Regions from separate parts of the Homo sapiens genome. Here all the other regions are linked to region 1. Evidence: fine-mapped expression QTL. A gene starts in region 1. Each other region holds a variant in brackets. All regions are shown on one strand. Distances are between the middles of the regions.

Region 1 (8,000 bases):
GAGAGCTCAGCAGGGCTCAGACCAGCCAGGTCCCAGGCAATGGAGGGACCCCCTGCAGGAGCAGCAGGCGTCACAGGGCAGGAAACGCACTGCAGGCTGGGGCTGAGGGCTCCAAAGGACCGGGCCTGGGCAGGCCAAGGGGCCCAAATGGCTGAGCCCTCAGTCTCTGTCCAGCTCTTGGACGGGATCTCCAGCCTGTGTTTCTCATGGGGAGGCTGGAGAGAGGCAGGCCTGGGTGGAATATCAGGGTGCCCACACAGATGGACTGCACAGAGCTGGGGAGGCCCAAGGAGCGCCCAAGGAGCATGGCAGGCTGCCCTGGGGCAGGCCAATGACCTGTGCCGCTGGCCCAGGCGACAGAAGAGTGAGGCGGCTATACCGTGCCATCTCCACGGAGCACCTGGTAGACACAGCCAGGCCACTTACCATTGGGGTACCCCAGCACAGGCTTAACTCACTCTGGGCACCCCAGGGTCTCTGTCCATCAGTTGGGAACCCAACACACACCTTATGATGTAGCTGTGTGTGGGCAGAGGCTTGGCACTGTATTAATCTCCACTATTCATTTCTGGTCCTGTGTCTCCATCAGCAGGGAGGGCCTGGAGCCCCTCCCAACTTCATGTTGAAAGTGGCAGGGAGAAGAGTGACCAGGGGAAGGCAGAGAGCAAATCCCATTTATTGGAATTTCACTGACAACAAATTGAGAGGAAGGCTTCCCCCTCCCCTGAAACATGCCATCCTCTCTGCCCTCAGGGCTCAGCACAGGGATAAGACCCCCACTCCGCATGTCCCCAGAGGGCAGCACTCCAGGGGGGTGGGGGGGAGGGGAGGGGTGCTCTACGCCAGGCTGGGGAGCTGGGACAGGAGGGAAGACGTGCACCCTCACCTCTTGGCTCAATCCCTCTCCCCGGGACCTGGTGCTGCCCCCAGTCCCTGGGGTGGGCTGGCAGACAGGGCTCATGCAACAATGAGTAGACAGGAGGTGGCACGGAAACGTGGCCTTGGTGCCCCTTGGCGGGGGCGGGAGGACTAAAGGGGCCATGCTGTGGCCACAGCGGGTCCAAATGGAAGTATCTGCAGTGTACATACAGGAGGGTTGGAGAGAGGCATCCTTTTCCCTAGGCTGTGCCTGGGGACAAGAGAGAGGGGAAGTACAGCTGGCACTGCCGTGCCAGGGGCAGGGTCCAGGCCAGCCGTGCCACCTGAGCGGGCACAGCGAGCTGGAGCTCGGCTACTCCTTGGCGCGGCCAATGATGGTGAGGATGTACAGGAAGATGTTGATGATGTCTGTGTACAGGTTCAGCGCAGCAAACACATACTCTTCTGGGCTCAGGGACAGCTGCTTGTTCCCCAGTAGCAGCTGGGTGTCCACTGCGAGGAACTGGAGGTGACAGCACAGTGGTGTTGAGGGACAAGCCTGCCTGCCCAGCATCCCGCCCCCGGCCAAGGTCACCCCTCACTCACGCAGGTGAAGAGCAGAGCGCCCAGTGAGGCGTACACGATCTCCAGGATGCGGTTCCGGATGAAGATGCAGAGAATGGCGAAGATGAAGAGCACCACCATGCTCACCAGGAGCACGCCCATGCATGAGGTGAAGTCGTAGCGGGTCTGCAGGTGGGAGAGGAACGGGCCATGGGGCTGGGCCTGGGAAAGCTGCTCAGCCCCTGCGGCCACAGCCCAGCCACGGGAGGCCCCTCACCTGCATGGAGAAGATGACGACGGTGAAGCAGACGGCTGTGGTGATGCCCACGGCCATGATGACTGCCTCGGTGTTGTAGAAGCTGGCGATCATCCCCACCATGTACGACAGGCTGGCGGTCAGGACCGACTGCAGTTGGGAGACACAGGCTGACCTTGGGTGTGTGCCCCCATGCCACCCCTGCCGGCCCCTGCCTCATGAGCACAAGGAGAACCACGGTGACCAGGCCCGGAAGAGTGGGCGTGTGGGACTGCATGGCCGGACCCAGGCACAGAGGCTCAGGTTTGGGGGTTACCAGTGCAACAAGGTTCCAGGGGTGCTTTCGCCGGAAGTCCCCACAACAGCTGAGGACGATGAGAGAGATGAAGAAGACAGCATAGGAGACATAGTAGGTCCAGACATTCTCCCGGACAAAGCCCTTCACCTCCGCAACAAAAGTGAACACAGACACCGTGGACAGGGTCACCGACAGCTGCAAGGTCAGCACTAGGAACACCTGGGGAAGGAGCCGCTCAGAGTCATCCGCTGGGAGCCACAGCCCCCACCGCCTTGGAGATGCCCCTACCCACCTTGCGGATGAAGGCCTGTCGGATGCTCTTGTCATCCCAGTTGGTGGCAGGGAAGTCCTGGTTGTCATAGTAGGATGGGGGACCCTCCTCCTGGTAGTTTCCATGCTGGGGTGCTGAGAAGCAGACAGGCTGGGTCAGCGCCACTCACAAGCACCTCCCCCTGCCCTCCCGGCCACCCCACCCCTCCCTTCCTGAGACTCACAGTCAGGGTCTTGTCCTGGGAAGACCTGTGGCTGTCCATAGGGGTTGGGGGGGAAGGGGCTCTGGGGATATGGCCCCTGGGGGTAGCCCCCTTGGGGGTAGGGGCCCTGTGGGTAGCCCTCTTGTGGGTAGGGGCCCTGTGGGTAGCCCCCTTGGGGGTAGGGACCCTGTGGGTAGCCCCCTTGGGGGTAGGGGCTGGGGCCATGGGGGTACCCTGGCTGACCGTAGGGGGAGGGCTGGAAAGGGGGCTGTGGGTAAGGGGCCCCAGGGTAGGGAGGCTGAGCATAGGGGGGCATGGGTGGCTGGGGCCCCCCCGGATATCCAGGGTTGGGGGGAGGATAGTTGTCCCCAGACACCAAAAAACTCTTTTCATGGGACATGGCCTCGGGTTCCGCGGTCCGCCCCTAGAGAAGACAGACAAGGAACAGTGGAACAGTTGGCTTGACGACAGCGTCGGGACCCAGCCCTGCGCAACTCCACCTGCTTCTGGGAACCCAGGGGGAAGCAAGGGAAGACCGTGACCTTTGCCCCGGGCTGTGGGGAGCCCCGGAGCCTGGGCCCGGAGAAGCGCGTGAGGACCGGACGGGCGGCGCCGTGGGGCCTTCCCAGGGCTCTAGGCCGCCTTTAGGGTGGGGGAGGGGCCGGGCGAGGGGACGACCGCCAGCCTCGGGATTTGGGGCTTGGGTCGTTTCTCACAAGCAACCGGAGGCCTGCGCCGCTGCCGGCGTCTCCCGGGTGGGAGCTCAGCGCGGAGGCTGGGGTCTCGGCCGGGGACGTGTGGGGTGTGCCCGGACCCTCCCCTCCGCATCCCGCCCCTTAAGCAGCTTTAAGGGGCCGGAGCCGGCGGCTATTTCTATCCCAGGAAATCCCCGGGCCATCTGTGACCAACAAAGGCCCGAGCCCCCCCACCCCCGCGAGCCCAACAACAGGGCCCAACGGCCCCTGGCTCCGGGGTGGGGGGATCGGGCCTGGATCGGCTGCCGGTGCCTGCCAGTGGGGTACGCCGGGAACAGCGGGGTGCGGGGGTGTGTGGGGGATGGAAGCGACCACGGGGCGTGCGGGGAACAAAGCGGGCGTGGGGCGAGGCGGGTAGGGGCTGCGGCCGTGGCACTGGCACCGAGAGCGGATGGGCCCTCCGCGGGCCGGGGGCGCACAGGGTCACGGGTCCAGCAGTCGCCGCAGCGCGCCGCCCCCTCCCTCCGGCTCCAGGCCGCCGCGGCTCCCCGCCCCCACCACCGCCGCCACCTCTGGCCGCGAGCTGCCGCGCGCCCCGGCCGGACCAACTTACTGACCCGAGGCGGCCACGCTCGGATGCGCAAGATCCGCGTGGGGGCGGGGGCGGGGGCGGCAGGCCGCGCGGCGCAGCGGGTCAGAGGCGCTCCTGGGCTCGGGCCGGGGACTCACCGGTGGCCGGGCGCCGCAGGCCGGTACGCACGGTGTCCGCTGCGCGGCCGCGCGGTGATGGCCGATGCGCCCGCACCCGCACCCGCTCGGCGGCCGCTCAGCTGGGCCTGCGCCTGCGGCTCGGAAGACGCAGCGGGGCCTTGTGACGGGGCGGGGCAGGGGGCGGGGCCGGGCGAGCTTCGGGGTGGGAGGGGCAGGTGGGCGGGGCTTCCGCGGACCCCTCCCGCTGCGCCGCCTTGCGTGTTCCTCTTCGCTCCGGCCAGAGGCCCGCCTCTCACTGTCTGCCGAGGGGTGGGGTCGGGCGGTGGGCGCTGAAGACCCCTGGAGGCAGAAGTCTGGTCTGGCCAATTTGACTGGCCGTTCGGTAGTTAAGAAATTTATTCCTAAATGCGGGATTTGCTGAAGCTGCCCGGGACTGACCGTCCGTTCTCGGCCTTAAAACCCGACGTTCACTTCTTTTCATCCAGATCTCTCCCAAATCAAGAAGCCTAATCCTTTAGTTCCCAAATCGAGGCCTCGTGGTTTAATTGCCCCATTTGCTCTGTCAGCCCAAACTCTGCCAGGCCTGCTACTAGAGACCCTTTTTTATTTTTTTAATTCTTGTGGATACATAGTAGGTGTATATTTACGGGCTACATGGGATGTTTTGATACAGGCATGCCATGGATAATAATCACATCAAGGTAAATGGGGTATCCATCAGCTCAGGCATTTTGTCCTTCGTGTTACAAACAATCCAGTTATACTCTTGGAGTTGTTTTAAAATGTACAATTATTCTTGACCACAGTCACCCTTTGTACTAACAAATACGATGTCTTGTTTTCACACTAGAGACCCTGAACGCTCGCTTGTCTGCCTAACGTCCTCACAAGCTGCGAGGGGCTGAGGCTTGGGGATGCAGCAGGACTGGAGGCCAGGCCACCTCCCTGCTTAGCTCCCAAGTCCTCTTGGGGGAGCAGTGACTGACACAGGCAGGGTACATCCTGCTGCCAGCCTTCCCACCCGGGGCCCAGACCCCACCTGCCCTCCCGCCCTTGGAGGGCCGGCCTCTCCCAGGCCGCTCTGAGTCCTGCACCTATGGTGCGCTGGCGCAGTGTTTAGCAGCCGGACCTAGTGAGGGGAAGCCTGGGGTGCGTGTTTTGCACATGCGCGTGGTGTGAATACTCCACCGGGGCTGGTTTCAAGTTACCCCCAGCTGGACAACCAGTCCACAGAAATTCCCGAAACTGTACCAGTCTGCTTGTGGTGTGAGTGGTGCCTGTGGCAGGCCCTCTGCAGCCAGGGTCGGCGTAATGGATAACCTGTGATGAGTTCCATTAGAGAAAACGTGGAAAAAGCAGGGATGGATTTACCCTTGTAGAAGGTAACTTCTACCTTTGTAGAAGCAGAAGCTCACAAAATTTGAGAGACCTTTAAGAAAAATAAAATGCTTGCTGGGCGCGGTGGCTTACGCCTGTAATCCCAGCACTTTGGGAGGCCGAGGCGGGTGGATCACAAGGTCAGGAGATGGAGACCATCCTGGCTAACACGGTGAAACCCCGTCTCTACTAAAAATACAAAAAAAAATTAGCTGGGCGTGGTGGTGTGCACCTGTAATCCCAGCTATTGGGGGGGCTGAGGCAGGAGAATGGCTTGAACCTGGGAGGCAGAGGTTACAGTGAGCTGAGATCGTGCCACCGCACTCCAGCCTGCGTAACAGAGTGTGACTCTGTCTCAAAAAATAAATAAATAAGTAAATAAAAATAAAATAGCTGGGTATGGTGGCTGGCACCAGTAATCCCAGCACTTTGGGAGGCTGAGGCAGGTGGATCATCTGAGGTCAGGAGTTTGAGACCAGTCTGCCCAATAGGGTGAAACCCTGTCTCTGCTAAAAATACAAAAATTAGCTGGGCATGGTGGTGCGTGCCTGTAATCCCAGCTACTTGGGAGGCTTAGGCAGGAGAATCCCTTGAACCCAGTGGGTGGACGTTGCAGTGAGCCGAGATCACGGCACTTCACTCCAGCCTGGGTGAAAGGGCGAAACTCCGTCTCAGAAAAAAAAAAAAAAAAGGCAGAGTAAGGGAGATCATGCCAGAGGGGTGGCCATGGGGGTTTGTGGGGAAGGTAGGGCCAAGCAGAGGGAAGGGCCAGTCCCAGGCTACTGAGGCAGGAGTGGCCTGTAGCTCTGCAGGAAGAGCTGAGAGCCTGGAGCCCTCTGAGCATCAGGGTGTGCAGGGGGCATGGGGCCAGAGAAGGGACTGAGGTCTGGTCAGGTGCAGCTGGGCAGGGGGCAGGTCCTCAAAAGGACTTTGGGTTTTTGTTTTTTTTTTAGACAGAGTCTCACTCTATCACCTTGGTTGGAGTGCAGTGGCACGATCTCAGCTCACTGCAACCTCCACCTCCCAGGTTCAAGCTATTCTCCTGACTCAGCCTCCTGAGTAGCTGAGATTATAGGCACCTGCCACCATGCCCGGCTAATTTTTATATTTTTAGTAGAGACAGGGTTTTACCATGTTGGCCAGGCTGATCTCAAACTCCTGACCTCGTGATCCACCTGCCTCAGTCTCCCAAAGTGCTGGGATTACAGGCATGAGCCACTGCGCCCGGCCCCCAGGACTTTGGTTTCTACTGTTGCTGATGCTGGGAGCTGTAGCAGCTGCTGGTGTCATTTTACAAGGCTCACCCTGACACCTCTGTTGAGGACCCACCATGGGAGTGGCAGACAGAGACTAGTTAAGAGGTTAGCCTAGCTACCTAGCGAGAGATGCTGGAGGCTGGGACCAGGGTCGGGGCAGCAGAGGTGTGGCATGTGCAGGGCTAGGAGTGCAGGCTGGCCAGGGTCCTCAGCTCCCTGGAGGGAGGAACAGCAGGGGTGGGGCTGGGTTTTGGTGGGCTGAGGGGTGAGTGGGAAGTAGGAGATGGAGAGTGGTAGTGGCCACAGCTCTTTGAAAGGCTGGAAGCAAACGGAGCTTGGGTGATGTGGGAGATCTGTGGCGAGTGGGAGTGTGGACTCTGAAGGCACCGCCCAGGTTTGAGGCCTGGTGCTGCTATGGGCCTGTCTGCACCTCCGTTTCCCTTTCTGTGGTGAGGATTAGCGGCAGCAAGGAATGCAGTGGAGCCATTACCTTGTCACCTTCTGAGGTTACTTGTGACGATGCCAATGATGGTGTGAGATGGGGAGGTGCAGGCAGGACAGAAAGCTGCAGGAATGGGCAGGCAAGACCTGAGGCGGGAGGAAGGCTGTGCTGCAATGCACATTCTTGGAGACCAAGGGTGGGGAACCGCCCATGCTCAGCACCTGGCAGGTGTGAGGGACCAGGAGCAGGGTTGAGAAGGTTGCTGGGGGCGTTGAAGGCCAGCCTTGGCCGGGGGCGGGCCTGGAGACCCAGCACTTTGTGTGCAGAGGGTGTCATGGACACAGAGGCTTGGAGATCCTGAGTGAGGGGCAGTGACTCAGGCCCCTTGGTGGGTTTAGTGGGGCGGGTGATTGGCCATTTTCAGGCCATGGAGGCCAGGGGAGTGGAGGGCCACCAGGGGACACTCCTGTCTACCCTGCCAACCAGGGGCTGGAGTGGGCCAGGTAGGGCCGGTGGGCTGGGCTGGGTTGGCTGGAGGGTCCTGAGGGGTCCAGCCTGGCCAATACCTCCTGGTCAGCTGGGGGTTGAGGCTGCAGCAGGAGAGGAAGCATCTGAGCCCCAGTACCCAGGCCTCAGCGCCCAGGGCCCAGCTGCTCCCTCCCTCCTTCCGTCTTTCAGTTTCACTTTTGTTTTCCTGCTCCCAGCAGGGTTAGGCTTGCTGAGGGGCAGGCACAGGAGTCCTGGCTGAGCTCATGGCCTGAGGCTGCCTAGCGGCCACGGGGAATGTAAGTGCTGTATGTGGGGCCACCCATAATGGGGGAGCATTGAGGACACACCTTGGAGGGGCCTGGGGAGGGGCAGGAGGGGTGGAATGGGCTGTTTCCCTACCCACCTGATGCCCCGTCCCAGGGTTGCAATGGCGGAGGCAGAGGCAGGGGTGGCAGTGGAGGTCCGTGGACTGCCCCCTGCCGTGCCCGACGAGCTGCTCACTCTCTACTTTGAAAACCGCCGACGCTCTGGAGGGGGACCTGTGTTGAGCTGGCAGAGACTGGGCTGTGGGGGCGTCCTCA
Region 2 (8,000 bases), 76 kb before region 1:
ATTAATGCTCTGGACTAGTCACCCTGGCGTTTAGTGCTTCTTTCTTTGGAAACCCAATAGGCTCAATCTTGTGACAGTTTGGGGCACTCCCTTGGGGGAACCCCCATGCTGCTGTTTTTGGGGTGATTCCAGCCTGGGGTTCGGTGGGATAAAGCAGCTCCATCCTTTGCTGATGGATGTGTGTGTGGTTGGAAAGCTTTCCAATCTGCTCCGCATTCAGCAAGCGTGGTGGCTAAATAACAACCCCAAAGACACTCAGGCCCGAATCACTGAAGCCTATGAATGTACCTCATTTGGCAAAAAAGACTTTGCAGATGAGATGCAGTTAAGGAGGCTGAGGCGGGGAGGCGATCCCGGGTGACCCAGTGGGCCCTGAATGTCATTCCAAGCGTCCTTTAGGAGGGAAATGGAGGGAGATTTGACTACAGGAGAAGAGAAGGCTGTGGGACCACCTGGGTAGAGATCAGAGTGATGTGGCTGCAAGCCAAGCAGTCCCGGCACACACCAGGAACTGGAAGAGGCAGGGCACCTGCTTTCCTCTGGAACCTCCAGAAGGAACCATCCCTGTAAAAGCCTTGATTTTAGCCCCATAAGACTCATCTTGGACTTTTGGTCTCCGGGACTGTAAGATAGTAAGTTTCTGTTGTTTTAAACCTGCAAGTCTGTGGTGATTTGTGAGGGCAGCAATAGACAGCCAGCACACCCAACCACTCAGCCTGGGTGCAGCCTGGCACCGGTGCAGAGGCTTCTGGACTCCCAGGGGTGGATGCAGTATCTGCAGGATCCTTTCTTTGTTGTCTCTGTCCCTGGTTTTCAGCTACACTCCAGGCTGGCCTGCCATTTCATTTGCTGCTATCAGTTTCACACAGCTGTCCGCTTTTTCCTAATTGCTCTCCACTGAGCTTCCCACAGCCTGCCACGCACCTTAGGCGTGACTTTCCCACACTGTGCTTCCTAAGGAAGGCAGCCCCATGCAGCAGCCAGCCCTGCCACCGCGTCTCACTGGGGCAGCATCTGTGGACCTGGGGGTGGGCGTGGTGGCCTGCTTCTCCCGGAGTGAGACCCCTGTGCTGTGGCAGGTGTTGGGGGACGGGAGGCCTCGTCTTCTCGGCGTGTCCCTCCCTATGTGGTGCCTCTGCCTTGCAGCCAGGAGCTGGGAGGAAGGAACCCGTGTCCTCAGCTGCACCTCCTGGAGTAGAGCTTTTATGATGGAGCCAGGGACCGGGGGAAGCAGGCTGAGCTCAAGCACCACAGATTCCCCCTGTTCTGATCAAGACTTAGTAGATCTTCTTGAATAAATGCTTCTTGCTTTGCTGTATGCCCCTTGGTCAATTTCCAAAGTGAGAGGGCTACACAGCCCACTGGGCGTCCTGCCCTGTGTGGGGTCTCAGGTGGAGGCCCGGAGAACACAGAGCGTCACTTCCCCACACTCTTCCCGCACAGGCCAGTCAGATTCCACAGCATGAGAACTGGACTTGCCTCCCAAGGGCCAGGGCAGCGTGTTCGTCTAAAGTGGCAGCCATGGTGGTGGTGTCAACTGAAGAATGGCGAGGTTTATACATTTGGAAAGGAGAGCTTTATTTCTCATAAAGGGTTGCAGTCTGCAGGGCGGCCATTCTGACAGGCAGGGAAGCGTAGCCTCCAGTCAGAAGTCAAAAACAGACACTTCATGGGAGGGGCAAGGGGAACAGGAATTTATGCTGAAGGGAGTGGCCAAATATACATATTCAATGAGCTATAAGAGGAGTCATGAATATTTATGAAAGGGGAGCACACAAACGCACAATTTAGCTTCATGCCTCCCCATGGGACTCATGTTCAAAAAATGGTGGCATTATCGTGATCTGAGGGTGGGGTTTTCAGGCTTCCAGCGTCAAATGGTGCAGCAGAGGACACAAAACCCCTCCCTGTGCTTCCTCCATAGCCGTAGAGCCACTCCGTGGCCAGTGGTCTCTATCAGGAAGGAATGCAGGCTGGCAGGTTGTTTCGGCAGGTTGAACCTCCGCCTCTTGGGTTCAAGCGATTCTCCGGCCTCAGCCTCCCAAGTAGCTGGGATTACAGGCATCTGCCACCATGCCCGGCTAATTTATGTATTTAGTAGAGATGGGGTTTCACCATGTTAGTCAGGCTGGTCTCGAACTCCTGACCTCAGGTGATCCATCCGCCTCAGCCTCCCAAAGTGCCAGGATGACAGGCGTGTGCCACTGTGCCCGGCCAACACATTTTCTATCTTTGTTCATCTTGAACTGTCTTTATTTCACCTTCATTTTCAAAAGTGGTTTTCCTAAATATCGGATTCTTGCTTGACAGTGTTTTTCTGACTTTGAGTCTTCTGGTCTCCACTGCTTCTTCTGAGGAGTCAGGTGTTCATCTTATTTGGGGTTCTCTTATATGTGATGAATCATTTTTTTATCTTGTTAACTTTCAAAGCTTTCTCTTTGTCTTTGCTTTCCAGTATTTTTACCATGATATGTCAACTCCTGGAAGCTGCCCACATTCCTTGCTCTGAGACTCCCCCAGCAGTGGAGACTCTCCCCTGTGTGGAATCTCTTTCATGCTTTGAGTTCTTTCCACTGGAAAGAGACCCATCCTTTGGAAGGATCACGTGATTAGGTTAGGCTCACCCAAAACCATCTCCTTTATCCCCCAGCAGTGTCAAAAAACATAACCTAATCATGGGAGTAAAGTCCATCTTATTCACAGTCCTGGGGATTATGCACGGCATGTACAGCAGGAAATCCTGGAAGCCTTCTGAGAATTCTGCCTATCACGCTTTACCCTCTGGCTTTCGGAGTGTGTGAGTTGAAAGTTGACTGACTGAGCCTCTCATTCTTTTTTTTGTTTTTTTGTTTTTGAGACAGAGTCTCACTCTTGTTGCCCAGGCTGGTGTGCAATGGTGTGATCTCGGCTCTCCACAACCTCTGCCTCCCAGGTTCAAGCGATTCTTCTGCCTCAGCCTCCCGAGTAGCTGGGATTACAGGCATGCACCACCACGCCTGGCTAATTTTGTATTTTTAATAGAGACGGGGTTTCTTCACGTTGGTCCGGCTGGCCTCAAACTCCCGACCTCAGGTGATCCGCCCGCCTCGGCTTCCCAAAGTGCTGGGATTACAGGCATGAGCCACCTCGCCTGGCCGAGCCTCATTCTTTTGGGGTAAAATCTCTCCAACTATCAGAAATACTCTACT[C/T]CAGGCCAGGCTTGGTGGCTCATACTTGTAATCCCTAATCCCAGCACTTTGGGAGGCCAAGGTGGGTGGATCACCTGAGGTCAGGAGTTTGAAAACAGCCTGGCCAACAGGGTGAAACCCTGTCTCTACTAAAAATACAAAAAAATTAGCCAGGCATGGTGGCACACACCTGTAGTCCCAGCTACTTGGGAGGCTGAGGCAGGAGAATTGCTTGAACCCAGGAGTCGGAGGTTGCAGTGAGCCGAGATGGTGCCATTGCACTCCAGCCTGGGTGACAGAGTGAGACTCTGTCTCAAAAAAAAAAAAAAAAAAAAAAAGAGAAAAACTCTACTTTGGCCAGGTGTGGTGGCTCACACCTGTAATCCCAGCACTTTGGGAGAACAAGGCAGGAGGCCAGGAGTTTAAGGCCAGCCTGGGCAACATAGTGAGACCCCGGGCCAGGTGCAGTGGCTCACGCCTGTAATCCCAGCATTTTGGGAGGCCAAGGCGGAGGGATCACGAGGTCAGGAGATAGAGACCATCCTGGCTAACACGGTGAAACCCTGTCTCTACTAAAAATACAAAAAAAAATCAGCCAGGTGTGGTGGCGGGCACCTGTAGTCCCAGCTACTCGGGAGGCTGAGGCAGGAGAATGGCCTGAATCCGGGAGGCAGAGCTTGCAGTGAGCTGAGATCACGCCACTGCACTCCAGCCTGGGTGACAGCAAGATTCCATCTCAAAAAACAAAACAAAACATAGCGAGACCCTGTTTCTACCAAAAAAAAAAAACAAAAAAACTAGCCAGGCATGGTGGTGCATGCATCTGTGGTCCCAGCTACTTGGGAGGCTGAGGTAGGAGGATCCCTTGAGCCTGGGAGGTCAAGGCTTCGATGAGCTATGATTGCACCACTGCACTCCAGCCTGGGTGACAGAGTGAGACCCCATCTCAAAAAAAAAAAAAAGTAAATAAAATAAAATAAAAAAATAAAAATACTCTACTCCATTTTCTTCCTAATTATAGGAATTATTTTATTGTAGTTGAGACAGAGTCTTATTCTGTTGCCCAGGCTGGAGTGCAGTGGCACGATCTCAGCTCACTGCAACCTCTGCCTCCCAGGTTCAAGTGATTCTCCAGCCTCAGCCTCCTGAGTAGCTGAGATTACAGGTGCCTGCCATCGCGGCCAGCTAATTTTTGTATTTTTTTTTTTAGTAGAGATGGGGTTTCACCATGTTGGCCAGGTTGGTCTCGAACTCCTGACCTCAGGTGATCTGCCCGCCTCAACCTCCCAAAGTGCTGGGATTACAGGTGTGAGCCCCTGCACCCGGCCGAGAATTAAATTGTCACAATTTCTGTTGGGATTCAGTACAGTTGCCCCCAGTCTCCTGGAGCACTAGTCTCAGGGGCACTGCCCCCACTCGCACAGGTGAGGGGCCCTGCGATGGCTCCACTCGAGTAGCCAGGGAAAGGAGTTTGAGAATCCCAGGACAGTCTACAAATCAGCAAGTGGAAACTAGACCATCAAACAAGCAAAAGAGAAAAATGATGTAAAATACATAATAATCATAATGTAAGAAAAAGCCAGAAAACCAAAGTAACTGTGCAGAAGTGTCCCTTTAAAGACAGATTGGAGGCTGGGCGCGGTGGCTCACGCCTGTAATCCCAGCACTTTGGGAGGCTGAGGTGGGCAGATCACGAGGTCAGGAAATTGAGACCATCCTGGCTAACACAGTGAAACCCCGACTCTACTAAAAAAAATACAAAAAAATTAGCCAGGCGTGGTTGCGGGCACTTGTAGTCCCAGCTACTTGGCAGGCTGACGCAGGAGAATGGCGTGAACCTGGGAGGCGGAGCTTGCAGTGAGCCCAGATGGCGCCACTGCACTCCAGCCTGGGCGACAGAGCAAGACTCCATCTCAAAAAAAAAAAAAAAAAAAGACAGATTGGATAGAAGAAGAAAGTCCTTTATGTGATCTAAAATGCAAACCACTGTCACCACTGAGGGTGAGGGTGGCTCTCCTGTCCCTGGGGAGGTGTGTCTTTAGGTCCTGGTCCTCAGCCTCTGGTGGGCCGCCTGGCCCATCCCCTTCCTTGAGGTTATGGCCCAGATGTGGTGCCTCTTCCAGGGCACCTGCCTGCTCGCTGCAACCTCCATGTGACAATGCCAAGGCCCTGTGCCCCCAGAAACAGGCCCAGCCTCCCTTGTGGTGGCTCTAGCACTGCCTGGTGCATCCCTTGGCCTGCAGCCCCCTCCCATGCTGTCCTAGCGTGCTCTCGGCTGGCTCTGCCCCTGTAGCCCTGGCCTGCCCTGGTTGCTGCTGTCCAGCTCCTGCTGTTGCTGGGCCCCATCCTGCAGGGCAGCCACGCACCCACCCTTCCTGATCCCTTCAGAAGCTGTGCCAACCGTGACTGCCGACATACCACACCTGGTTGCCTAAAACTATGTCCTGGCATGGCCAGGCCTGGAGGCTGTGGCTGGTGGCCAGTGGGCTGTCAGACGGGTGGGTGCGGAAGCCTGCATCCCATATCCCTTCCCCCACGACACACCTGGGCTTGGCCGGGTCAAAGAAGCTTCCATCTTCTAGGAGGAGGATTCCTGGAGTGAGCCAGAGACCTGGGACAGTTCTGGGCACCCACTGGCCATTTGGCCCTCAGGGGGCTGGAGGTCAGAGGTCAGGCCACCTCTGCCACGGGGTGGTTGGAACAGCTGGGTCCTGACCCTGAAGGCCCGGAATGCGGCTGAGGCGAGGGGGCAGGGGCAGCTGCTGACCTCACAATAGCAGGGTCTGCTGTCCCTGGCCGGCCTGCTGGCCCCCGCCAGCTGCCGCCGCTGGCTGCCAGGCATGTCCCTCCTCAGCAGCTATGAGGGCCTGCGGCAGGAGATCCAGCGGCTGGCACAGGAGAACGAAGAGCTGCGGCGGCTGGTGCAGCTCATCCAGGAGAACCAGGAGCTGAAGCTGGTGCTCAGGAACCGCGGCAGCAGCCTGGGCTTCTGCAGCTCCGGGTTCCTGGCTGAGGTGGCTGCCAGTCCCTGGCTACCCAGGCGGAGAACGATCAAATTCAAGAATGCTGAGAGAGGTGAGCCGTACCGGGGCCCCAAGACTCTGTGGAGTTGGGCAAACCCGCTGGGTGCTGCGGTGCCTCTGGAGCAAAGCCAGGGCCCTGGGGCTCTTCCAGGATGTGCGGCGGGGAGAAGGTGCCAGGTCTGGGAAAGTGACCTCTGAGCAGAGCCTGAGCGGGCGAGGGAGCTGCCAGGCTGGGGCGCGGCTTTCCAGGCCCAGGGAACAGCCTGTGCCAGGCCCTGAGGTGGGTGCAAGTTGTCTGTGCCTGAAGCTGTCAGAGTCACTGCAACGGCAGACTCTGTCCTCCCAGCCCTGCGCTCTCTGGTGGTGGGGACAGCCATATCCCTGGGGGAACGTGATGGAAGCCTGGCCGGGGTGGAGGTGTGAGAAGTAGCAGCTCTGTGTTCTGAAGGTGAAAGTAACAGGACTTCTGGCAGATTGCGTGTGGGGATGAGAATGGGGCTGGGGCAGCTCGCTGGGTGGGGGAGCCGCTGCTGGAGTGGGCCACTGGTAGGTGGCCTGGGGCTTGGTTTTGGGACGTGTCTGGCCATGCAGTCAGAGGCGCCACTAGAGAGTAGGGGCCGGGCCATCCCGCAGGCCTGGAGCTGCCTCTGGTTGCTGTGGAGGGGCTGCGTGGCATTGCCAAGGGGAAGCTGGGACCCAGCAACATGGAGGGACAGAGATAAAGGCCCAGTGGGGTAGGAGGCAGGTGGGGCAGCCAAGGGAGGCCTGAGCCTGGGTGGGTGGGGGTTGGCTTTTGTTGGTCTGCCCCCGAGACGCGCAGTGGAGTGGGGTCAGGAGAGCCCAGGAGGCAGGCGGAGGTGGGGGAGGTGGACACCTGGAGGTGCACGGCAGTGGGATGCCGCTAGGGAGCGTGGGGACAGGCCCTTAGAGGTTTCGTCTGTGAGTGGATAGCACAGGCCCCTGGAGTGAACAGAGAGGCGAGGGGGTGGCTGGGGATGGTGGAGGGCAGTGAGAGAGTTTGGGGTCTACAGCACAGGCCTGGCGGGCAGCCTGAGTGCGTACAGGGCAGCAGATGGTGGGGGTGTGGGTGGGTGGGGTGTGGGAATCTCTCCTGATAGATCCTGGGCTGACAGGCAGGACCAAGAGGCTGTGCTGGGGATGGGTGGAAACCAGAAGGCAGGGCAGTCCCGCAGGAGTGTGGGCTGGCCAGGCAGAGGCTGTATGGCTGGTGGGGAAGGTCCTCGGCTGAAGTGGGGTTGCTGACCAGAGCTGCTTCCCACGGACTGCTCAGAGCAGGCAGGTGGGGCTCCTGCATGTGGGCGTGGCATGATCATCTGGGGCCTCAGCTGGGCCTCAGGATGGGAAGGCACTAGGAGGTCCATGGGCATGGGGTCTGGGGGTGGCATCACAGCAGGCACGTGCCACTTACAGGGCAGTCATCTGGACATGAGCAGCAGCCCATCCATGGGGAGGGGTTCCTAAGTGCCTGATCCTGGGCCCCATCCCTGTCTATGGGGAGCTGGAGTCCACTGCCCTTGGCACAAATGTTACAGGAAAGGGGTCCCAATCCAGACCCCAAGAGAGGGTTCTTGGATTTCTTGAAAGAAAGAATTCAGGGCGAGTGCCTAAAGTGAAAGCACGTTTATTAAGAAAGTAGAGGAATAAAGAATGGTTACCCCATAGACAGAGCACCCCGAGGGCTGCTGGTTGCCCATTTTTTTTTTTTTTTTTTTGAGACGGAGTCTCACTCTGTCGCCAGGCTGGAGTGCAGTGGTGCGATCTCATCTCACTGCAAGCTCCGCCTCCTGGG
Region 3 (8,000 bases), 19 kb after region 1:
TGGCGGCCAGGTGGGAATGTACAGGAGCAGTGTATAGGGAGGGGGTACCTGGTTGTCTGGAGCCCCAGCCTCTTCCTGAGCCAGGATCTGGCCTTGCTTTCCAGTAGCTCCCCATCCAGGGAGAACGATGGGAAGCATCCAGCGAGATGCTTGGGGAAGGGGGAGGGCAGGAGGGAAGTGGGTGACCTAGAGCTGTGCTAGGAGAGGGAGGAGCAGTAGCTCTCTAGGCTTTGGCTTGAGAGTCCTGACCTGTTCCAGCCGGAGGGCAGGGAGGCCCCTGCGGGAGGCCAGGAGAGGGCTGCAAGGCCAGGTGCTGAGCCCTGGGGGGATGTTGCAGACGACGGGAAGCGGGGCTGGTAGGAGCAGGAAAGAGGGAAGGAGAGGGTCACTGCTGTGCACCCAGCTCCAGCCCCAGGGTCTGGTTCCATCTGCATGACCTTCAGGGCTTTTCACAGCACACACGGACTTTAAAGAAAGAAGTCACTTTCTTCCCACTTGAAAGGGAATCACTTGTGTCGTTCCCACGCCTGGGCTTTCTTCAGCATCACCTTTACAGTTGTGGAGGAGTGTGGGGGGTCCCGAGGCCCCGGCTGACCGTGGTTGCCTTCGGTACTCACTGCAAAGGCTTTGCCCCCAGCCAGCACCTTCCGCGCCGGGGCTCTGCGTCCTCTGACGGTTTCCTTAGGACCGATTCCTGGAAGCGGGACTTGCAGTTACAGGACATATGGCATTAAGCTTGGAGAAAACACGGCCAGGGGCATCCCAGACAGGGTGGCCGACATTGGTGAAGGCGGGGAGAGCGGGGGCTTTGCCAATCTGATGGGTGGAAAGAGTTGTTTTAATTATCACCAAGCATTTTTTCCTTCTGTGAATGGGCTATTCCAGTCCTCGTATGTGTACTTAATTTTTCTTGTGTGTAGTGTTTTAAGGGTTCTTTATACCGACTCAGTCGTCTCCAATGTTGCAATGGGAAAGTTCTCAGCTGCACGCAGGAAGCAAGGTGGGGGGCGGGCAGGGGAGCGTCTCGGAGGCAGGTCGCCGGCCCGGCGGGGAACAGACAGGTCGCGGCCGCCCCTGGGCGGGGGCCACCCGAGGACCCCCGGGCGACCGCGGTGTCGGCGGCCGCGACCCGGGCGAGAACGGGAAAGGGCGTGCGTGCGGGACTCGGAGCCCGCGGAACCGGCCCGCCGGGAGGGGCCCAGACGCGGCTCCCTCTGCCCGGCCGCGGCGGCCCCGGCCCCGCCCCGCCCGTGGGGCATCCTGGGTGCGGGGGCGGGGCGGGGGCGGGGCGGGGGCGGCCTCTTTAAGCGGCGCGCGCGGCCGCGGGGACAGAGTGGCCGCCGGGTGCTGGAGGCTCCGCTGCACCCCGCGCCCCGCGCCCGCCGGCATGGCCGGCCCGCTGCCCGACGAGCAGGACTTCATCCAGGCCTACGAGGAGGTGCGCGAGAAGTACAAAGGTACGGCCCCCCGTCCCGCTGCCTGTCGGGCCGCTCCTGACAGCCCAGCCGCCGAGCACCTTGTCGTCCACGGTGGCGGTCCCGATCGCCGGCCCGAGCGCGGCCACTCCGCCGGCCTCGTCCGCCTGGATCGCCCCCAACGGCTGCCAGTGCCTAGGGAAGGGGAGGACTCGCTCCGCTGAGCCCCCGAGGCCATGCCCTTAATAGGGCATCGCGCGGCTCGGGTGGGTGGGGTGGGCCGCGGGCGGGTGGGGGCGCTCAGGGCTTGTCGGGGTCGGCTGTCTGAGCCAGGATCCGGTGTCTGTGGCCAGCAGACACATGGGTCAAGGCTGAGCCATCCCCTGCCCCACCTCTGGGGCGCGTCTGCATGGAACAGGGGCAGCTCCGCCGCCTGGCAATGGGTCACATAGTTGCCGCCTCTCCTCACCTCCCTAAACTGGCGAGGGCCTGGGCTGCCACCCTTCCTTGGCAGGGCACCCCCCCCACACCCCTTCTCTGTTCACTAGGGGACAGCTGTGGGCTAGGGGTCAGGGTGGCCCCTCCTTCCTCTCTAGGGGAGCATCAGAGTGGCCTGCCCACCTGCTTGATGCCTCGGCAGACCCCCTTGCCCTAGTCCACGCCCACGGGGAGCCCCTGGACCCTCCCAGGTCCTGGTCCCACCGGCCATTCTTGCAGCCCAGCTGCCTGGCTCAGCCTGGGTCGCCCGGCTCCAGGCGGTTGTGGACACAGCATTGGCTGCCGGCCTGCAGAGGCTTAGGAGCAAGGGACTGAGCTGCTGGGGAGGGTCGCGGTGGGGGCCCCCAGGCAGAGCCGATCAGAGCAGACTCCAGCTCCACGTGGCTGGTTTTGCTGGCTCTGCCCCCAAGGGCAGCTCAGGGAGAGAGGTCCTGCTGGGGCCCCGTGGTGCCGCTCTCCACCACAACCTTGCCCAGCTGGGTAGGTTTCATGGTGCCCCGAACTCATCTCCTTCAGGCGTCCTCCAGCGACGGCTCTGGGGCAGGGTGGATGTACTGCTGTGGCTCTCTTTGACAGTGCTGTGCCCAGCCGCTTTGCCTGTGTGACTAGTTCATTCGGGCCAGGGGAGACACTCCTGCACCCTTGGGGAGGCCTGGAGCGGGCAGCCTGTTGCTCATGCTCTACATGGCCGGCCCTGCCTTAGAGGGAGCACCCGGAGGGGTGCTGGGGTATAGGGCAGGGAAGCAGCCGCCCACCTGGGCTCCAGCCCTCCTGGCAAGCCCCAGGACAGAGCTGTTTCTGAGCTGACCACTCTGTTCAAAGTGCGGGAACTGTGCAGGATCGTTTCCTCCTGGAGTTCTTCATCTGGTCAGGTTGCTGGGCTGCCTGGGGTGCCCCAGCCTGTTCTGGGCATTGTGCTGAGGCTTTCCTGGCCCCAGGGCTGTCTTTCCTCTACCTCCTGGGGTGGGAACTACTTCTGATTCATCCAGGGGTGAGCCAGACAGATCCCTGGAGGTTGCTGGGACCCTCTGTCAGGGTCCTCCCTCCCAAGCGCAGCTCCTCTGGAGGCCAGGATTGGTGTTGGGCACACTCGCAGTCTTGGCCCATTGTCTGCCTTCTGGGCTTGGTGGTGGAGGCTGGTGAGGGGGCAGGGGGGCCGGGGGGCTTGCCTGAAGTGGAGTTGTCACGTGATGGTGCAGCTGCCCGCATGTGTGTGGCACTGGCCTGAGAGTGGCTAAACAGCAAGGCAGGTGCTGAGGCTCCGTGAGCACACCAGGTACCCCAAGTCTCCTTAGCTCCTGGCTTGAGACAAGGGGACGGGAGGGGCTGGGCTGGTACCTGTGTCTGGGAGCCACGGACCAAGGCTGAGGAGGGCCTGCAGGAGGTCAGAGGTGGCCCCTGTGCCCTACACCTTTCCAGGCCTGACCTCTGTGAGCCCCTTGGACCTGCTAGAGGGCTGGAGCCCCGGCCCTTCCTGTCCCTGGGGTGGAGGGACTGTGGGAGGGCATGGCACCCCTTGCCAGCCAGCCAGTGACGGCAAGGCAGCCCCAAATCCCTCCATGGTAAGCAGCTGCGGGCCCCTGTCCTGGGCCCAGCTCAGCATTTGGTGGTTCTGAGGAGGGCAGGGAGGCCAGGCCTGTGCCCCCTGCCCAGCTGATCCCTGCACTGAGGAGGTGCTCTGGCTTAGGCCTCCTGGCCTCCTCCCCTCTGTGGCATTGCCTCGGTTCCACCTCACTGTGCCCTCTCACAGACAACTCCCTGTCTGACCCTCACTCCGGTGACCTTCACCCCCCACCCCACAACGTCTCAGACCCTCCCCTGGACACGTCATTCCCTGGCTCTCCCCTGGAAATCCCCGGTCTTCCCTGTACAGTCAGGCGGCCACTGCTCCGCTTGGAACATCGCCAACTTCCTGTCTGCCTGAGCCCCTCAGCCCCCCCATTCTCCCTGTCCCCCATCCAGGGCAGATTCCTCTGGGGCTGAGGCTACTGCAGCCTGTGGCGGGAGAGCTCTGGGCACCCTGTGGGAGAGGCCTCCGTGCTGAGGGCTGTGGGCTGGTGACTTAGACAGTCGGCCCAGCTGCCAAGAGGTGTCCAGTCGCCCAGCGCCCCAAGCCTGGCCTGTGACAGCTCATAGAGGCTGGGCCGTTCTGCCGCACCATGGGAGCCTGGAGAGAGACCTGGGGTGGGTGTGGCAGGGCGGGGACAGTTCTAGGAGAGAGTTGTGGCAATGCAGGTGAGTGGAGGTGAGGCGGCCAGTCCATAACTGAAAAGAGAGCGGTGTTGCCAGGGGCTGGGTGAGAAAATATCCTGGAATTGACAGCTACACAACTCCGAATCTACTGAAACCACTGAATTGGACGCTTTGAATGGGTGAATGGTGTGGCATGTGAATTACCTCTCAATAAAGCTATTAAAAAATACTAATAATCAGCATGAGGTCAACCTAATTGGTACTGACATGAAAAGCCAGTGGCTCCAGAGGAAATCTCAGTCTGAGCTCCCTGTAAAGGGGCGGCCAAATCCGTGTGCTCTCTCCCGCCCTCTCTCATGCACAGCGATCGCCCCAGCCGGGAGCCTGAACCCAGAGGTGTGACTCTCCCCGTTTTTCTTTGTATACTTCCACCCTGCTTGATTTTTTTTTTTTTTGGAGCGTTTTACTTTTGACAGTAAACACCGACCAAAATTCCTCTCCAGTGAGCCCCAAATAACCTCCAGCCTGCCCTCTGCCAGCTGAGCACCAACCACTGCAGATGACGCCCTACGCCATCACCCACTCACCCGTGCAAACACCCTGCAGTGCTGGCTGAGGGCCTGGGGCCAGTGCCAGGGACACAGATAACCAAGCTCAGAGTCCAGGACAGGGGAGAGTAGGGGACACATGAGGAGGGGGCCAGGCACAGTGGCACTGGGCAGGCCCAGGGCTGGCAAGGGGTCCTGAAGAGAGTGCAGGCCACAGGCTGGGCACACGCCCTGTGGAGACCCAACACACCCAGCCCCTCTCCAGGCCCGCTTTTCCCCCAGACCAATGCAGGCCTCCCACCCCTGGC[C/T]CCTGCCCCACACCAACGCCACCCACTCACCAACGGTACTCACCCCGGCCTCATTCTCACCCCTGCTGCCCTCTCCAGGACCACCTCACAGCACCCCTAAGCCCCACTCCCATCCCTAACATGACAACCTAAAGTCTCTATCCCCAGCTGCCCAGGCCCCCGGCTGGCCCCACTCCCCACTCCCCGGCCTGCACTCATGCCCTGACCCCCAGGACAGGCCCCTGCCCACAACGCTGGACTGCTGCTGGGCCGCTCTTTCTTTCTTCACTGACCGCCTCACCTCCACTCACCTGCATTGCCACAACTCTCTCCTAGAACTGTCCCCGCCCTGCCACACCCACCCCAGGTCTCTCTCCAGGCTCCCATGGTGTGGCAGGACGGCCCAGCCTCTATGAGCTGTCACAGGCCAGGCTTGGGGGGCTGGGCGACTGGACACCTCTTGGCAGCTGGGCCGACTGTCTAAGTCACCAGCCCACAGCCCTCAGCACGGAGGCCTCTCCCATAGGGTGCCCAGAGCTCTCCTGCCACAGGCTGCAGTAGCCTCAGCCCCAGAGGAATCTGCCCTGGATGGGGGACAGGGAGAATGGGGGGGCTGAGGGGCTCAGGCAGACAGGAATGGTTATGGATTGGCCTGTACTGGCCCTGGGTCTGGCCTCTTCGACTTGCCGGGACGCTGTCAGGGCTGCTCACATCGCCGCGCCATCAGCACCTCACCCTCCCCCCGCTGGAGTCGGTTCCGTGGTGTGGAAGTGCCCACTTTTGCTTATGCGTTTATCAGTTGACGGATAGTGGGTTGTTTCCACCTTTTGGCTGTTATGAGTGAGGCTGCTATGGACGTTTGCATACACGTTTTTGTGTGGTCGTATGTTTTTTATTTCTGCTGGGTAGATACCTAGGAGTGGAATTGCTCAGCTGTGTGGTAATTCTATATTTAACCATTTTGAAGAACTGCCAGATTGCTTCCTAAAGCGGGCGTGCCATTCTGCATGCCCAGTAACAGCCGGGTGCGAGGTTTCCAATTTCCTCACATCCTCACCAACACTTGTTATTATCTGACTCTTTGATTGCAGACATCCAATCCTAGTGGGTGTCGAGTGGAATCTCATTGTGGTTTGATTTGCATTTCCTGATGGCTAATGACGTTGAACACTTTGGTGTGATTGTTGGCCATTTTTTATATCTTTTGAGAAATGTGTATTTCAATCCTTTGTCCATTTTAGAATTTACCTTTTGGTATTTTTGAGTTGTAAGTGTTCTTTATATATTCTAGATGCCAGTCCTTTATCAGAAATATGATTTGCAAACATTTTCTGTTTCTGTGGTCTGCCTTTTTATTTGCTTGCTGGTGTCTTTTTTTTTTTTTTTTTTGAGATGGAGTTTTGCTCTGTCACCCAGGCTGGAGCAGGTTCAAGTGACTCTTGTACCTCAGGCTCCCGAGTAGCTGGGACTACAGGCGTCTGCCACCACACCTGGCTAATTTTTGTATTTTTAGTAGAGATGGGGCTTCGCCATATTGGCCAGGCTGGTCTCAAACTCCTGGCCTCAGCCTCCACAGTGCTGGGATTACAGCGTGAGCCACCTCACCTGGCCGGTGGTGTCCTTTGAAGCACGTACATTTTAATTTTAATTATTATGACTCCAGTTTATCTATCTTTTTCCTTGGTTGCTTGTGCTTTTGGTGCCATATTTAAGAAGCCATTGTCTAATCCAAGTCATGAAGCTTTACACCAATGTTTTCTTTTCTTCCTTTTTTTTTTTTTGAGACGAAGTCTCGCTCTGTCTCGCTCTGTCACCCAGGCTGGAGTGCAGTGGCATGATCTCAGCTCATTGCAACCTCTGCCTCCTGGGTTCAAGCAATTCTCCTGCCTCTGTCCGCCGAGTAGCTGGGATTACATGTGTGCGCCACCACACCTGGCTAATTTTTGTATTTTTAGTAGAGATAGGGTTTCCCCATGTTGGCCAGGCTGGTCTTGAACTCCTGACCTCAAGTAAGCCACCTGCCTCAGCCTCAGTGCTGGGGTTACAGGTGTGAGCCACCGCGCCTGGCCTGAATTCTTTGATTATTAATTAAGCTGAGCACATCTCCTAGAGTTGTTGACTATTTGCACCTTTTCTTTTGTGAACTGCCTATTCACAAGCATTGTTGGCCAGGCTGGTCTTAAACTCCTGTGCTCACATGGAAATGGAATCAAGGGATCCTCCTGCCTTGGCCTCCCAAAGTACTGGGATTACAGGTGTGAGCTGCTGCCATGCCTGGCTACTACACCTTTTTACATCAGGGACTTGAGCATCTGTGGATTCTGGTATCCATGGGGAGTCCAGAACCCATCTCCCGCTGATACCGAGGGACACTTGTATTCGGCGTAAACTTCGAAGTTGCCTGTGGGCAGCACCAGCTCACGGAACAGAACTTTTCAGCTCCTGGAAAGTTCCTGCTGAGTCCCCACTGGGCACACCATGGATGGGTCTCACACCACGCATCTATTTTTGTTTAATTCTGTCTGTTTCTTTTTTTTTTTTTTTTTTTTTTTTTTTGAGATGGAGTCTCGCTCTGTTGCCCAGGCTGGAATGCAGTGGCGCGATCTCGGCTCACTGCAACCTCCGCCTCCCGGGTTCAAGCCATTCTCCTGCCTCAGGCTCCCGAGTAGCTGGGACTACAGGCGCCCGCCACCATGCCCAGCTAATTTTTTGTATTTTTAGTAGAGACGGGGTTTCACCGTGTTAGCCAGGACAGTCTCGATCTCCTGACCTCGTGATCTGCCCACCTCGGCCTCCCAAAGTGCTGGGATTACAGGCGTGAGCCACCGCGCCTGGCCTAATTCTGTCTGTGGTTTCTTTAGCCATATCAATTTTTAACACTCACCAGTCTTTTATGATTTCTGGATTTTATGCTATGCTTAAAATGGCCTTCTTTTAGAAAAACATCTGCTGAGAGTTGCTTCCAGCACTGCTGCATTTTTTTAAACATCTCTGTCGTTAATCTTTGTGGAATTTGCTTGGGGCTGAGGTCGAGATGTTCAAGGAGGCTCGATGTCATG
Region 4 (8,000 bases), 59 kb after region 1:
GCCCGGAGGGCAGGGGGCTTGGGCCTGGACGCCCCGACGACCCCTGACAGCCGCCCGTGCCTGCCCGCAGGAGCTGCAGCTGCGCTGGCAGGAGTACCGGGAGCTGGTGCTGCTGCTGCTTCAGTGGATGCGACACCACACGGCCGCCTTTGAGGAACGCAGGTTCCCCTCCAGCTTCGAGGAGATTGAGGTGGGCCTGCCGTGGGGGGCGGGGTCCTGGGCCTGCCCTGAGAGCCCGGCGTGGTTGCCGACAGCCTCGTCCCTGGCAGATCCTGTGGTCTCAGTTCCTGAAGTTTAAGGAGATGGAGCTACCAGCCAAGGAGGCCGACAAGAACAGGTCCAAGGGCATCTACCAATCCCTGGAGGTGAGTGGGACCGCTGGAGGGGTGGGTGGTGTCCTGGAACGCCCCAGGCCTGAAAGGTTCTTCCGGAGCCGACCTGGCCCTGCCTTTGGGACCAGGGCTGTCCCAGGTCTGGTGGGCTGGGGTCTGAAGGCCCAGCGCCCCACCCCCTGCCCCCTGCCTATAGGGCCTGAGTGTGGCCCCTGTCTACAGGGAGCGGTGCAAGCAGGCCAGCTCAAGGTGCCCCCTGGCTACCACCCGCTGGATGTGGAGAAGGAGTGGGGCAAGCTGCACGTGGCCATCCTGGAGCGGGAGAAGCAGCTCCGCAGCGAGTTTGAGAGGTGGGTGGGGCCCTGTGGTGGCAGGGGAACCACCCGAGGGTGTGTCACTGCCTGGGAAGGAAACCCCCCTCCCCGCCCCGCCCCCGGCGGGGGAACCCAAGCTCCCACTCGCCTTAGGACAGTGGGCCACAGCCAGGGAGACCGGAGCGGGAGGCGAGCTGCAGTCTGTGGCCAGGGCTGTGCCGGACCCGGCCAACGCGGCCCCTTCCCTGTGCTGCTGCTGCAGGCTGGAGTGTCTTCAGCGCATCGTGACCAAGCTGCAGATGGAGGCGGGGCTGTGTGAGGAGCAGCTGAACCAGGCCGACGCCCTGCTGCAGTCGGTGAGGGGGTGTGGGGCAGGCAGTGGGCGGGAGGGAGGCCGGAGGAGCCTGCCCCGCCCTGCAGCCCTAAAGCCAGGAGGGGGCTGTCCCCCTGGGCTCCTGGGGCAGGGGCAGGGGCAGGGGCGGGGCATGTGGTGGGGAATCCAGGCCTGAGCTCCTCCCTCCTCGTGTGCAGCTAACTCTCACTGCCTGCTTTGGGCAGAGTTGGTTTCTGGCCACGGGGCAGAACCCACGCTGGGCTGCCTTGCCCCCGCCAGGCCCCCTCCCCGACAGCGGCTTACTGTTAGGGGAGGGGTTGGGGGAGGGCCCAACCCACTGCTGATTGCCCAGGAGGACAGGGCCCACGTGGCATTACAGGAGGAGTTACCCAGGGTGGGTGATGGAGGATGAGGCCCAGGACCCCACAGACATGGTCATGGGGGTCTCGGTTCTTGGACTGGGCTAAGTACTCTGGACTTGGTCCCAATCCCCCAGAAGGCCAGTAGGAAGATGTGTGAGGTGGGCAGGGAGGGAAGGGGAAGGACAGGGATGGAGGCAGTGGCCCACTGAGGCTGAGGAAGCGGCTGAGGGTGGCCGTCTTGGCCGGGGCCCCTGTGAGGTCAGAGGGGGATCAGCTGTGCTCCGAGTCATGGCAACGACCTTGCAGGATGTCCGGCTGCTGGCTGCAGGCAAAGTGCCACAGCGGGCGGGGGAGGTGGAACGGGACTTGGACAAGGCGGATAGCATGATCCGGCTGCTCTTCAACGACGTGCAGACCCTCAAGGATGGACGGCACCCGCAGGGCGAGCAGATGTACCGCAGGTGGGCCCCGCCCTGCCCTCCCTGAAGCCCAGGTACACACGGCCCCAGGCCCGCCAACACCTACCTGAGTCCTCTGCTGCCCCAGGGTGTACCGTCTGCACGAGCGCCTGGTAGCCATCCGCACCGAGTACAACCTACGGCTGAAGGCAGGCGTGGCGGCCCCTGCAACCCAGGTGGCCCAGGTGACTCTGCAGAGTGTGCAGAGGCGCCCCGAGCTGGAGGACTCCACTCTGCGCTACCTGCAGGACCTGCTGGCCTGGGTGGAGGAGAACCAGCACCGTGTGGATGGCGCTGAGTGGGGTGTGGACCTGCCCAGCGTGGAGGCGCAGCTGGGCAGCCACCGAGGCCTGCACCAGTCCATCGAAGAATTCCGGGCCAAGATCGAGCGGGCACGGAGTGACGAGGTGGGTGGCGCTGAGCGATGGGCAGTGCGGGGGTGGGCCGGGCCCAGCCACTGCAGACCTCACCGTCTCATCTGTTGCAGGGCCAGCTCTCCCCCGCCACCCGGGGTGCCTACCGTGACTGCCTGGGTCGGCTGGACCTGCAGTACGCCAAGCTGCTGGTGAGTGGGGGCAGGGCCAGCCGGGGGAGGTGGGTAGCCCGCGGCCTGCTGACACGCACCCTCCTGCCCACAGAACTCCTCCAAGGCCCGCCTCAGGTCCCTGGAGAGCTTGCACAGCTTTGTGGCAGCCGCCACTAAGGAGCTAATGTGGCTGAATGAGAAGGAGGAGGAGGAGGTGGGCTTCGACTGGAGCGACCGCAACACCAACATGACCGCCAAGAAGGAGAGCTACTCGGTGAGCGGTGGCCCAGCTGCCCTGAACCCCACAGCCCCCTCCCCAGCTGTGCCCTGGCCGTCCCCTATGGTCAGAGACCAGTGGGGGCCCTGGGTCGAGTTTGCTGGGAGCGTGGCAGAGCCGGGTGTGGCCGGCCGTCCCTGAGACCCTTTGCTCTGGTGCCAGGCGCTGATGCGGGAGCTGGAGCTGAAGGAGAAGAAGATCAAGGAGCTCCAAAATGCTGGGGACCGGCTGCTGCGGGAGGACCACCCGGCCCGGCCCACGGTGGAGGTGGGGCTCCCTGGGTAGGGGCGGGGCTGCGGGGGGGGCCGTGCCGGGTCCCCAGGCGGGGCGGGGCGGGGCCTGACCGGGACCTGCTGTCCCGCAGTCCTTCCAGGCGGCCCTGCAGACGCAGTGGAGCTGGATGCTACAGCTGTGCTGCTGTATCGAGGCACACCTGAAGGAGAACGCTGCCTACTTTCAGGTGAGAACCGGAGCCCCCTCCGCACTGTGGCTCAGCGGCAGCCTTGCAGGAGCCCCTGGACCCCCTCGGCAGCTCCAATCAGGAGCCCTCCTGTCTGCAGACGTTGCCAGCTGCTGCCTGCAGCCTGACCGGGGCCTTGGACAGGGGTGCTCCCCAGGCCTCCTGGGGGCTTTGCCACTCCTTCCTCAGTGCCCCCGTCTTGGGCCTGCCCTGGGACAACTGTGGGCTGGGGCTCTGGTCCCAGGTAGCCTGGCGTGACCCCCTCCCGCTGCCCCAGTTCTTCTCAGATGTGCGGGAGGCCGAGGGGCAGTTGCAGAAGCTGCAGGAGGCACTGCGTAGGAAATACAGTTGTGATCGCTCCGCCACCGTCACCCGGCTGGAGGACCTGCTGCAGGATGCCCAGGTGAGGGAGGGGGTGTGCAGGGGCGTGTCAGGAGGGGCTGGCCTGGAGTCTGGGCTGCACGGGTACTCTGGAGACTAGGGGGCAACTGGAGGGGCCAGCAGGAGTTGGGAGGCACCATGGGAGGTGTAGAGGTCAGCCGAAGCGGGAATGAGGCAGGATGTTCTGGGCTGCATGGGTACTCTGGAGACTAGGGGGCAACTGGAGGGGCCAGCAGGAGTTGGGAGGCACCATGGGAGGTGTAGAGGTCAGCCAAGGGGGGAATGAGGCAGGATGTGGGGAGCCGAGAGGCAGCCGGTCCAAGCCGGGCCGCCCCCATCTCCATAGCCACAGAGTGAGTGGAAGCCTGAAGTCAGCAGCTGCCGCCAGCCCTTGTGCTGTAGAAGGGGCACCGCCAGCCCTTGTGCTATAGAAGGAGCACTGCCAGCCCTTGTACTATAGAAGGGGCACCAGCTGTTTGGCCTGAGATCTGGAGCGGGCAGAGTGGAACTGGGCTTTGTGCTCTGGGAGCAGGGGTGGGATCACCCAGGAGGGCGGGTGCACAGTGGGGAGTGACAGGGAAGAGGGACTGGAGACTGAAATGGCCTCTGAGGTCGGCAGGGCTGGGCCGGGGGGAGAGCCGGCAGCTCCCAGGTGTGTGCCGTCCTGCGGCCTGGCCCCCGCAGAGGGGTGGGATGGGAGGAGGCAGTACCTTCTGCAGCCCGCAGGGGAGGGGCAAGGGGCGAGGGCATTGTAGGGACCAGAGCGTAGCTGGGAGGACATGGTGGGTGAGCTGGGGTGAGAGGAGGGTGCCCTGTCTGGGTTGGGAAGGAGCGAGGGTGCATGGGTCTGCTTGGGGCCAACCCCCGGGGCCTGTCCCAGCTATACCTCCTGCTTCCAAGTGCTGCCACCCCGGGAGCATCAGGAGGGCCCCACAGGCCTGGTCCCGGGGTCTGGGGGTGCCTGGGGCAGGCCTGTGGGTCTCCATGGCCCTCGTCTGGATGCTGCCCCTCCCCCACAGGACGAGAAGGAACAGCTGAACGAGTACAAGGGCCACCTCTCAGGCCTGGCCAAGCGGGCCAAGGCCGTCGTGCAGCTGAAGCCCCGCCACCCAGCCCACCCCATGCGGGGCCGCCTGCCCCTGCTGGCCGTGTGCGACTATAAGCAGGTGGAGGTGAGCGCAGGCCGGGGGTCCACTGGGGGGCGTGGCCAGGCAGGGCAGGGTGTGGCCATGTCCTCACCGACTCTGCCCGTCCCAGGTGACTGTGCACAAGGGTGACGAGTGCCAGCTGGTGGGCCCTGCACAGCCGTCCCACTGGAAGGTGCTCAGCAGCTCCGGCAGCGAGGCC[G/A]CCGTGCCCTCCGTGTGCTTCCTGGTGCCCCCGCCCAACCAGGAGGCCCAGGAGGCCGTCACCAGGTGGGTGGCGGGGGCTCAGCAGGTGGGGGCTGGAAGGCGGGTGGGGCGCTGGTGACGCTGACTGTAGCCCTGACCTGCCAGGCTGGAGGCCCAGCACCAGGCCCTGGTCACGCTGTGGCACCAGTTGCACGTGGACATGAAGAGCCTTCTGGCCTGGCAGAGCCTTCGCCGCGACGTGCAGCTCATCCGCTCCTGGTCCCTGGCCACGGTACGCCTGCCCCCGAGCCGGGGGCTCTCTGGGTGGGAGGAGGGGAGAGGCGTTGTGCAGGGCACGGCCGCCTCGCCCGGCACTCAGCCCCACGTGCTTCCCCCAGTTCCGCACCCTGAAGCCAGAGGAGCAGCGCCAAGCCCTGCACAGCCTGGAGCTGCACTACCAGGCCTTCCTGCGGGACAGCCAGGACGCGGGCGGCTTCGGACCCGAGGACCGGCTGATGGCTGAGCGCGAGTACGGCTCCTGCAGCCACCACTACCAGCAGCTGCTGCAGAGCCTGGAACAGGGTAGGGCACGGCAGGGCTGGGGCGGTTGGGCTGGTGCGAGGTGGGCGGTGGAGTGACCCACATGTGTTCCCCAGGTGCACAGGAAGAGTCTCGCTGCCAGCGCTGCATCTCCGAGCTCAAAGACATCCGGCTGCAGCTGGAGGCCTGTGAGACGCGCACCGTGCACCGCCTGCGGCTGCCGCTGGACAAAGAGCCGGCACGGGAGTGTGCCCAGCGCATCGCCGAGCAGCAGGCAGGGGCCGTCCCCCCCCATCCAGTCCCATCCCTCTCCCCATCCCTCCTCCCACCCTCCCTCCTTTGGCCTTCAAGGGGCGCTGTGTGCTGCGCTCGGTGATGAGTGCGTTCCCACTCCCTGTCTTTGCAGAAGGCACAGGCAGAGGTGGAGGGGCTGGGCAAGGGGGTCGCCCGGCTCTCTGCCGAGGCCGAGAAGGTCTTGGCCCTACCAGAGCCATCGCCTGCGGCCCCCACGCTGCGCTCGGAGCTGGAGCTGACGCTGGGCAAGCTGGAGCAGGTCCGCAGCCTGTCTGCCATCTACCTGGAGAAGTGAGTGCACCTGGCCACAGGCGAGGGGCTGGGGTCGGCTGGGGGGTGCTGGGGTGAGGGCTGTGACCTTGCAGGAGGGTGCAGGAGGGAACGAGTTGGGGGCTGTTCAGAGATCTGGCCAGGAGGCGGGAGGCCCAGCTGGGGTGGTGGCCGCAGAGGTGGTGAGAAGAGTTCAGGGCTGGATACGCTTCGACAGTGGCGGCCGGGGGACTTCCTGGTGATGAGATTCGGGTGTGGGGAAGAGACAGTGGAGCTGGGCAGCGGCTGCTGAGTGAGGTGGGGAAGCTGTGGATCCACTTTCAGTGGCACAGTAAGGAATCCTGCACCCTGCCTCTCGTCTGTCCTGTTCCTGGCCTGGACTTAAGGGCCTCTGGCATTTATTTCCAATGTGTTATGTCATAGTCTCTTCCTGTGTTGCAAACCACAGGTCCACCCGCTGTCTACTCCTCACAGAACCAGCACAGTGATAGGGCCGCCGCCTCTTCCTGTGTTGCAAACCACAGGTCCACCCGCTGTCTACTCCTCACAGAACCAGCACAGTGATAGGGCCGCCACCTCTTCCTGTGTTGCAAACCACAGGTCCACCCGCTGTCTACTCCTCACAGAACCAGCACAGTGATAGGGCCGCCGCCTCTTCCTGTGTTGCAAACCACAGGTCCACCCGCTGTCTACTCCTCACAGAACCAGCACAGTGATAGGGCCGCCGCTGGCTACCACAGGGTGCCATTTCCACCCCGGTGTCCCCTTCGCCCAGTCTTGGGCTGCAAGGGCTGAGAACTACGCTTCCAGGCCCTGTGGGCACCAGGATGCCGCTGTCATCCAGCCAGTGGGCTCGTCCTGTCTCGGGGCCTTGGGGTCTGCCGTTCCTGGCTGGCGCACCCCCTCTCCAGGCTGGGTCCTGAGTGTCCTTGTGTTACAGAGGCTCCCAACCTCCTTCTCCCCAAGGCTGTTCTTCTCCTGAAGCAAGCCTCTGACCACAGGGTCAGCTGACCCCCAGGGTTGGGTCTGGGCTTGGCAGGCAGCACCCTGGGTCGCTGTGGCTTGGGTTCCATTCCCTTGGGCTATTGCTCGAGCCCCATGTCATGGCCCTGAGCCCCGCTTTCCCGCCAGGCTCAAGACCATCAGCCTGGTGATCCGCGGCACGCAGGGGGCCGAGGAGGTGCTCAGGGCCCACGAGGAGCAGCTCAAGGAGGCCCAGGCCGTGCCGGCCACCCTCCCGGAGCTCGAGGCCACCAAGGCCTCTCTGAAGGTATCGTTTCGAGGCTTGGGCTTCATGGCGGGGTGGGGGTACAGCGGGCCCAGCTGAAGCCGCACATGTCCCTCCTGTCCCCAACAGAAGCTGCGGGCCCAGGCCGAGGCACAGCAGCCCACGTTCGACGCCCTGCGGGATGAGCTGCGGGGGGCACAGGAGGTGGGGGAGCGACTGCAGCAGCGGCACGGGGAGCGGGACGTGGAGGTGGAGCGCTGGCGGGAGCGGGTCGCCCAGTTGCTTGAGCGCTGGCAGGCTGTGCTGGCCCAGACCGACGTGCGGCAGCGCGAGCTCGAGCAACTGGGCCGCCAGCTGCGTTACTACCGCGAGAGTGCAGACCCCTTGGGCGCCTGGCTGCAGGACGCCAGGCGGCGGCAGGAGCAGATCCAGGCCATGCCGCTGGCCGACAGCCAGGCTGTGCGGGAGCAGCTGCGGCAGGAGCAGGTGGGCTTGGGTCGGTGGGGACGGGGCGGCTGGGCGTGCCCTGCGGCCACGGCTCTGACCACACCATCACCCAGGCCCTGCTGGAGGAGATCGAGCGCCACGGCGAGAAGGTCGAGGAGTGCCAGAGGTTTGCGAAACAGTACATCAACGCCATCAAGGTGAGGCCCAGCCGCCTGCACCAGGCCCCAAGTCCGGGACCGTTGCCAGGATGATGGCGGGCTTTCCCTGAGCCTGGGCCATGCCAGGGAAAGCCCATGTGAGGGTTTAGGGGCTGGGCAGGGGCCATCGGAGGGCAGAGCTGGTGGCTGACCGCAGTGCATTGCCACAGGACTATGAACTCCAGCTGGTGACGTACAAGGCGCAGCTTGAGCCGGTGGCCTCCCCGGCCAAGAAGCCCAAGGTCCAGTCGG

Direction of the effects. Alleles are on the strand shown, and positions count from the first base shown. SD is a standard deviation of normalised expression in the study named. Not every link is listed here.
For the expression in monocytes of the gene that starts at base 4,017 in region 1, allele C in region 2 goes with a higher level than allele T (large effect, 1.2 SD a copy in CEDAR).

What was found. PIP is the estimated chance that this variant, and not a neighbour inherited with it, causes the effect.
Region 2: its variant is fine-mapped to the expression of GRINA in monocytes (CEDAR, PIP 0.95).
Region 3: its variant is fine-mapped to the expression of GRINA in whole blood (TOPMed, PIP 0.98).
Region 4: its variant is fine-mapped to the expression of GRINA in whole blood (TOPMed, PIP 0.99).

The regions. Positions count from the first base shown.
Region 1 is chr8:143,986,073-143,994,072 of GRCh38, reverse strand. It overlaps GRINA (glutamate ionotropic receptor NMDA type subunit associated protein 1), which reads right to left and starts at 4,017. Exons shown (of 7, transcript NM_001009184.2): 1 at 3,874-4,017; 2 at 2,471-2,873; 3 at 2,269-2,381; 4 at 1,995-2,195; 5 at 1,700-1,828; 6 at 1,465-1,608; 7 at 658-1,381. The coding sequence starts at 2,849. The coding sequence ends at 1,232. PARP10 (poly(ADP-ribose) polymerase family member 10) reads left to right here and starts at 7,613. Exons shown (of 11, transcript NM_032789.5): 1 at 7,613-7,715; 2 at 7,840-8,000. The coding sequence starts at 7,714. RefSeq lists enhancers at 1,771-2,272, 6,937-7,840, 7,511-7,950 and silencers at 2,936-2,985, 2,818-3,112, 3,036-3,295, 3,426-3,565, 3,586-4,085.
Region 2 is chr8:144,061,942-144,069,941 of GRCh38, reverse strand. It overlaps a transcript of OPLAH not described here and a transcript of EXOSC4 not described here. Among named protein-coding and RNA genes, the nearest start is that of OPLAH, 5.2 kb to the right of the region's middle. The variant C/T (reference allele first, on the strand shown) is at 3,189.
Region 3 is chr8:143,966,860-143,974,859 of GRCh38, reverse strand. It overlaps a transcript of PLEC not described here. Among named protein-coding and RNA genes, the nearest start is that of PARP10, 16 kb to the left of the region's middle. RefSeq lists silencers at 977-1,106, 1,117-1,576 and enhancers at 1,310-2,157, 2,158-3,007, 7,733-8,000. The variant C/T (reference allele first, on the strand shown) is at 4,963.
Region 4 is chr8:143,927,000-143,934,999 of GRCh38, reverse strand. It overlaps PLEC (plectin), which reads left to right. Exons shown (of 32, transcript NM_201384.3): 9 at 71-190; 10 at 270-365; 11 at 555-682; 12 at 909-1,002; 13 at 1,649-1,803; 14 at 1,889-2,207; 15 at 2,288-2,365; 16 at 2,439-2,600; 17 at 2,766-2,870; 18 at 2,968-3,063; 19 at 3,341-3,466; 20 at 4,464-4,616; 21 at 4,702-4,856; 22 at 4,938-5,064; 7 more. Among named protein-coding and RNA genes, the nearest start is that of PLEC, 8.6 kb to the left of the region's middle. RefSeq lists enhancers at 393-442, 1,851-2,786, 6,011-6,260, 6,651-6,780 and silencers at 733-842, 963-1,242, 6,395-6,524. The variant G/A (reference allele first, on the strand shown) is at 4,792.